Homo sapiens: one gene and its partner. The protein of the gene in region 1 purifies or fractionates together with the protein of each later gene. This does not show direct contact. Each region holds a gene or a part of one and is shown in the gene's direction. Other genes may lie near its edges.

What was found.
Region 2: the proteins of USP30 (region 1) and NLRP3 purify together in Homo sapiens (affinity purification with western blotting; one study listed by BioGRID). This does not show direct contact.

The regions. Positions count from the first base shown.
Region 1 is NC_000012.12:109,076,351-109,080,166, forward strand, and holds part of USP30 (ubiquitin carboxyl-terminal hydrolase 30), read left to right. Parts: intron 1-3,816. UniProt on the Homo sapiens protein: Deubiquitinating enzyme tethered to the mitochondrial outer membrane that acts as a key inhibitor of mitophagy by counteracting the action of parkin (PRKN): hydrolyzes ubiquitin attached by parkin on target proteins, such as RHOT1/MIRO1 and TOMM20, thereby blocking parkin's ability to drive mitophagy.
Region 2 is NC_000001.11:247,425,911-247,429,726, forward strand, and holds part of NLRP3 (NACHT, LRR and PYD domains-containing protein 3), read left to right. Parts: intron 1-3,674; coding exon 3,675-3,816. UniProt on the Homo sapiens protein: Sensor component of the NLRP3 inflammasome, which mediates inflammasome activation in response to defects in membrane integrity, leading to secretion of inflammatory cytokines IL1B and IL18 and pyroptosis.

The DNA.
Region 1 (3,816 bases):
TCATGTTGCTTATGAATAGAAATAGTTTTAGTTCTTCCTTTCCAACCCAATCTTTATTCCTTTTTTTTTTTTTTCTTTGCCTTATTATCCTGGCTAAGACTTATGGTACAAAGTTAAATAAGAGTGATGATGGCAGACATCTTTGCTTTGTTTCAAATCTTCTGAAGCAAGTATTTGGTGTTTTATAATTAAGTATGATATTAGCTTTAGGTTTTAGTATACCTCTTTATCATACTGACAAACTTCCCTTCTGTTCCTAGTTTGCTGAGAATTTTTGTAATGAATAGTGATTGGATTTTGTCAGTTTTTTCTGCATCCATTGAAATGATCATATTTTAGTCTTATTCTGTTGACTTGGTGAATTACAGTGATTGATTTTTTCTTTTTTTTTTTTTTTTTGAGACGGAGTCTTGCTCTGTCGCCCAGGCTGGAGTGCAGTGGCGTGATCTCGGCTCACTGCAAGCTCCACCTCCCAGGTTCACGCCATTCTCCTGCCTCAGCCTCCCGAGTAGCTGGGACTACAGGCGCCCGCCACCACGCCCGGCTAATTTTTTGTATTTTTTAGTAGAGACAGGGTTTCACCGTGTTAGCCAGGATGGTCTCGATCTCCTGACCTCGTGATCCGCCTGCCTCAGCCTCTCAAAGTGCTGGGATTACAGGCATGAGCCACTGTGCCCAGCCAGTGATTGATTTTTCTAATGTTAAACCAACCTTTCTGGGATAAACCCCACTTGATCATGATGCTTTATTGTTTTTATATATTATTGAATTTGATTTGCTAATATTTCCTAAAGGATATTAGTATCTGTGTTTATGAGGAATATTGTTCTTACACTTTTCTTCTCTTGTGATGTCTTTGTCAGGCTTTGTTATAAGGATTATACTAGCCTCATAAAATAGGCTGGAAAATGTTCCTTCCTCTGTTTACTGAAAGATTTTGTTTAATATTGGTATTATTTCTTGCTTGTTTGCTAAAATTTGTCTTTTCTTTAGCTCTATTTCTGCTAATTTTTTTTAAACTTTGTTATTGGATACAAGCATATGTATTATGATGAGTTAACTCATCTTGTCATGATAAATTGTCCCTCTTCATCTCTGCTAAGACTCCTTGACTTGAAGTCTATTTGAATGATTCATTTTTAATCTAGCTAATGTTTATTTGGTCATTTCTTTCTGTCATTTTCGGCCTTTGTATTTAAAGTGTGACTTTGTGGACAGCATATAATGGGTCTTGCTTTTTTAACTAGCTTGACAATCTTTTAGTTGGAATGCTTAGTCCATTTACATTTAATGTAAGTATTGATGTGATTAGATTTAGGTCTGCCATTTTACCATTTGTTTTCTGTTTGTCTTACATATTTTCTTGTTCCTCTGTTCCCCCTTCACTGGCTTCTTTCAGGTTAATGGAATACTTTTTAGTATTCCATTTTAATACCTTTGTTGGCCTTTTAGCTTTACTCTTGTGTGTTTGTGTTGGGGGGGGAGGGTGTGTGTGAGAGATTACGTTATGCAGTTTTACCTTATCACATTCTATTTAGAGTTAATATTATACTTCATGTAAAATCCTGGAATATTACAAAAGTATAGTTCTGTTACCCCAGCCTTTGTGCTATTATACATACATTATAAACCTCACAATACTGTGTCATAGTTTTTGCTTTAAAGAGTTATATGTGTTTCATTTCATTTCCTTTGGATATATACCTGGAAGTGGTATTGCTAGTTCATACAGTAGTTCTGTTCTTAACTTTTTGAGGAACCTCCTCCGTACAATTTTCCATAATAGCTGCACCAGCCAGGTGCTGTGGCTCACGTCTGTAATCCCAGCACTTTGGAAGGCTGAGACGAGTGGATCACGAGGTCAGGAGTTCAAGACCAGCATGGCCAACATGGTGAAACCCCGTCTCTACTAAAATTACAAAAATTAGCTGGGCCTGGTGGCGGGCGTCTGTAATCCCAGCTACTCGGGAGGCTGAGGCAGGAGAATGGCTTGAACCCAGGAGGCCGATGTTGTGGTGAGCCGAGATCACGCCACTGCACTTCAGTCTGGGCGACAGAGTGAGACTGAGTCTCAAAAAAAAAAAAAAATAGCTGCACCAGTTTACATTCCCACCAGTAGTATGCAAGAGTTGCCTTCTCTTAAGAGGCTGAGGCAGGAGAATTGCTTGAACCTGGGAGGCAGAGGTTGCAGTGAGCCGAGATCACACCACTGCATGCCAGCCTGGGCGACAAAGCGAGACTCCATCTCAAAAAAAAAAAAAAGAGTTGCCTTCTCTTCTACTAATTAATTAATAGAAAAATATGTTTACCATTTTTCTTGTTCTCAGTCTTTCTTGTAGATCAAAATCCATTTGATGTTTTTTCCCTTTTGGCCTAAAAACTTCCTTTTAACATTTGTTATAGGTGTACTGCTGACAGATACACTTAGATTTCATGTATATGAAAATGTTTTTGTCTTGCCTTCATTTTTGAAGAATACTACTGCTGGATATAGAACTTTGGGTTGACAGTGTTGCCGTGGTTTTGCTTTGGTTTATTTTAAATTCATCACTTTAAGGACATTGTTCTATTGTCTTCTGGCCTCCATTTTCTCAGTTAGTGTCATTTATATCATTCTTGTCTATGTAAATTGTCATTTGTTTTTCTTCTGCTTACACTGCTTACAAAATTTTCTCTTTATTTTTGTTCATGCTGCGCATAGATGTGGTTTTCTTAGTATTTATCTTATTTATCTTGTTTGGGGTTTGCTGAGTTTCTTAAATTTGTACTTTTTTTAACCAAGTTTGAAAATTCTTGGCTGTTATTTTTTCAACAAAGATTTTATGCCCATTTTTCACTTGTTATTTTACTTAATGTTGGCCCACAGGTCACTGAGGTCTTGTTCAATTTTCTTCAATCTTTCTTCTGTGTGTTCTTTAAATTAGATCATTTCTATTGACTTATCTTCACGTTCACTGATTCTTTTTTCTCTTTTTTTCTTTTCTTTTTCTTTTTTTTTTTCTTTTTTTTTTTTTTTTTTTTTTTTTTTTGTGACAGGGGTCTTAGCTCTGTCACCGAGGCTGGATTGCAATAATGTGATCATAGCTCACTGCAGCCTCAACCTCCCAGGCTCAAGTTATCCTCCCACCTTAGCCCCCTGAGCAGCTGGGACTACAGGTGTGTGCCACCACACCCAGCTAATTTTTTTTTATTTTTTGTAGAGACAGGGTCTCACTGTGTTGCTCAGGTTGGTCCTGAACTCCTGGGCTCAAGTGATCCTTACACTTCAGCCTCCCAAAGTGTTGGGATTACAGGTGTGAGCCACCATACCTGGCCTGATTCTTTTTTCATCTCCAATCTCTGTTTGCCTATGCAACAAATTTTTCATCGTAATCACTGTTGTTTTTAGTTATAGAATTTCCATTGCCTTCTTTTTAATAGTTTCCATTGTTCTGAGATTCTCAATTTGTTCATTCACTGTCACTGTATATTTTCCTTTACATCCTTGAGCATATTTATGATACATCTGTGAGGTCCTCGTGTGCTGACTTCTTTGTATTTTATGTTTGGTAATTTTTTATTGTATGCTTAACATCATAATAGAGACATAGAGAGTAGGGATTCTGTTACATATCTATGAAGAAAAATTAATTTTCTTCTGGCCTGCAGTTAACCTGGCTGGGCTCAAACTCAACTCTGTCTCCCCTACATTGGGCAGCAAAATCTCTGCTCAGTTTTTTTAGCTTCCAGCTGCTACTTTTTGCCAGGCTCCCTGGAGTTTCCCCCTGTGCACGTGTGGTTCAGGGATCAGCCCTGGAATTGAACAGAGTTTAGGTA
Region 2 (3,816 bases), on another chromosome or scaffold:
TGGAGCACTAGTGCCTAAGAGTCAGTCAATGTCTGTGGGGCAGAACAATGCCAGAGAGTCTGTGTCCCAGGAGCGAGGGGACAGAGGGCCTCAGAGCTGGAGGCTGGGGGGATGTTTCTTAGAAATGTGCAATCTAAGCCTCCTTTAAGGAATGGTGGGACCTGGGCGCATAGAGAAGAAATTAAAGGAATTCTGCACTGAAGACTGGTATGAGCCAAATCATGAATGCAGTCTGAGAAAAAGTGTGTGCAGGTGACAGTGGAGAGAGACACAGTTTCCTTGGAAAAAAACATGATGAAGGTAAATCAAGGGAAATAGAGCAGAAATGTGGAGACCCTCTTTCTAGGCCCCCATGTTGCTCTGCACTGGGCATTGCCAAAACCCCGTTTTCGGGTCTGTTCACACACTTGCTGGGTGGTTGGAAGCTAGTGGCCAAGTCTGTGCAATGAAGTGGTTGAGTCACCTGACTTCTGAGTCCCTTTTGGGTTTATCGTTCAGTGCCTCCTGCAGAAGGACCACCCACAGTGGTTGTAGGAAGGTGGCCACCCTGTGATGTGTGAGTTTAGCCTGGATAGAAGACACTTGACGTGGGGCAAAATTAAGGGAAACAGGAGGCTTGGCCCTTCCACAGGCAACAATGAGTTTCAGCTTTCTTGATCCGTTGACATTACCATGACCAGGACCACCTTCCTAGTCATGGTTTGGCCATGAAGGACTGACTGCCCACAGGGCCGCAGTGGTGGTGAAGACCCAGGTCCTGGTCACAGGGACTTGAGGTCTGGCTGTGGGACAGTCCGGAAACAAGTGCAGATGTCGGGGAGGGGGTCATGGGCTCTGACAAGGAAACTTGCAGAGTATCCAAAGCACAAGGGGACGAACCTGTTCACCAGCGGGGCACGGGTGGGTGTCCCCGCTCAGCCAGCTTCCGGAGGATGGGCAGTGAGAGAGTGAGAGAAGGAAAGGGGCAGCCAGGCTGGGGGCTTACGGTGTTGAGAGAGAGGGCAGGTGTGGGAAAGCAGGGTACGGTTTCTACGGCAGCAAACAGTTCCGAGTGACTGGAAAAAAGACAGTTGTCTTCATTCATCAGGTTGCCATAACAAAACACTGCAGGCTGGTTGGCTTATAAGCAAAAGGAAGGTTCACCTTACGGTTCTGGAGGCTGGGAAGTCCATGATCCAGGCTCTGGCAGATCTGGTGTTTGGTGAGGGCCTGTTCCCTGGTCGATGGTGCCTTCTCACTGTGTCCTTACATGGTGAAGAGGCAAGGCAGCTCTCTGGGGTCCCTTTCCTAAGGACAGCAATCCCACTCCTGAGGGCTCCACCCTCATAACTTAACCACACCTCAAAGGCCCCATCGCCTGATACGTCATGTTGAGGGTTAGGATTTCAGCGTATGGATTTTGGGGCACACAAACATTCAGACCATAGAAATGGGAGAAGAAGAGTAAGACAGAGAGAAAAGTAGGCAGAACTACTCATTAAGAGTGAGGTGGAAGGTGGAGAGGGCAGGGAGACCTTATGAAGATCACACATCTGTGAGGAAGGTTTGCACACTCTCACTGAAGCCCCGGTAGGAGGCTCAGCACCCATTTCTCTAGATAGCACCTTCCTTCCTCTGAGGACAGATTCTGACTGGAGCCCTGGTAGGGGGCTCAGCACCCATCCCTCTAGATGGCACCTGCCTTACTCTGAGGACAGACTCTCACTGAAGCCCCGGTAGGAGGCTCAGCACCCATTTCTCTAGATAGCACCTTCCTTCCTCTGAGGACAGACTCTGATTGGAGCCCTGGCAGGGGGCTCAGCACCCATTTCTCTAGATAGCACCTTCCTTCCTCTGAGGACAGACTCTCACTGAAGCCCCGGTAGGAGGCTCAGCACCCATTTCTCTAGATAGCACCTTCCTTCCTCTGAGGACAGACTCTGATTGGAGCCCTGGCAGGGGGCTCAGCACCCATCCCTCTAGATGGCACCTGCCTTACTCTGAGGACAGACTCTCACTGAAGCCCCGGTAGGAGGCTCAGCAACCATTTCTCTAGATAGCACCTTCCTTCCTCTGAGGACAGACTCTGATTGGAGCCCTGGCAGGGGGCTCAGCACCCATTTCTCTAGATAGCACCTTCCTTCCTCTGAGGACAGACTCTCACTGAAGCCCCGGTAGGAGGCTCAGCACCCATTTCTCTAGATAGCACCTTCCTTCCTCAGGACAGACTCTGACTGGAACCCTGGTAGGGGGCTCAGCACCCATCCCTCTAGATGGCACCTGCCTTACTCTGAGGACAGACTCTGACGGGAGCCCTGGTAGGGGGCTCAGCACCCATCCCTCTAGATGGCACCTGCCTTACTCTGAGGACAGACTCTGACTGGAGCCCTGGTAGGGGGCTCAGCACCCATCTTTCTAGATGGCAGCTGCCTTACTCTGAGGGCAGGAGCTTGCTTTGTATGTTCCAGTCCCTTCTGAGAACCAGAAGCCTGAGCATCTATTAGAAATGCAGGATTGTGGACCCAATCTTAGACCTAGAGAGCTAGACTTTGCATTTGAATGAGAGCTACAGGTGATTCAAAGGTGACTGCATGTGTGGGTGCAGTGGCTCTTGCCTGTAATCCTAGGTTTTGGGAGGCCAAGATGGGGGGATTGCTTGAAGCCAGGAATTCAAGTCCTACCTGAGCAGCAAAGTGAGAGCACCTCTCTACAGAAAAACAAAAGCAAAAATGTGACTGCATGTTGGAGCCACCTGGCTTTTTTTAAATAAAAAAGATCCATATAGCTGGACACAGTGACTCGTGCCTGTAACCTCAGCTACTCGGGAGGCTGAGGCAAGAGGATTGCTTGAGCCCAGGAGTTTGAGGCTGCAGTGAGCTATGATCATGGCACTGCATTCCAGCTTGGGTTTCATCTGAAAAAAAATTTAAAAAATTCATCTAGTTCCACCTCAGAGCTTCTGATTTTATTTCCATGGATGTGGCCTGGGCTTGCGATTTTCTTTTTCTTTTTTTTTTTTTTGAGATGAAGTCTTGCTCTGTTGCCCAGGCTGGAGTGCTGTGGCATGATCTTGGCTCACTGCAACTTCCACCTCCCAGGTTCAAGTGATTCTCCTGCCTCAGCCTCCCTAATAGCTGGGATGACAGGCTCGTGCCACCACACCCAATTAATTTTTGTATTTTTAGTAGAGAGAGGGTTTCACCATGTTGGCCAGGCTGATCTTGAACTCCTGACCTCAGGTGATCTGCCCGCCTCGGCCTCCCAAAGTGCTGGGATTACAGGTGTGAGCCACCATGCCCAGCCTGGCCTGAGGATTTTTGTGAGCACTCCTGATGCTGTTGTGTAGCCAGGAGTGAGGACTGCCCTCTGATCACCCAGCACAGAACGTTCAGGGCCATGTTGGGACAGTGGACTGGTAAGGGCGAGAGGAGGACACTGGGGAGCAGGCTGTAGGGTGCCACAGTCCGCCACAGTCACAGGCTCATGCTCTCCGTCCGAGAGGAGGCAGAACTGCTTTTACCAAGGCTCATCCAGCCCTCTTCATTTCTCTGGGAACAATTTTTGGTTTCGTGACCCATTTCTTAATCCCCGGAAGGCATTTCTCTGAACTGGTGCCAGGCACCCCGGCCCCCAGCTCCAGTTAGTTATTATTCGAGGCTGATTTCTTTTCTGTCTGTCTTCCTTCTAATTCCTAGATTGGTGAACAGCCACCTCACTTCCAGTTTTTGCCGGGGCCTCTTTTCAGTTCTGAGCACCAGCCAGAGTCTAACTGAATTGGACCTCAGTGACAATTCTCTGGGGGACCCAGGGATGAGAGTGTTGTGTGAAACGCTCCAG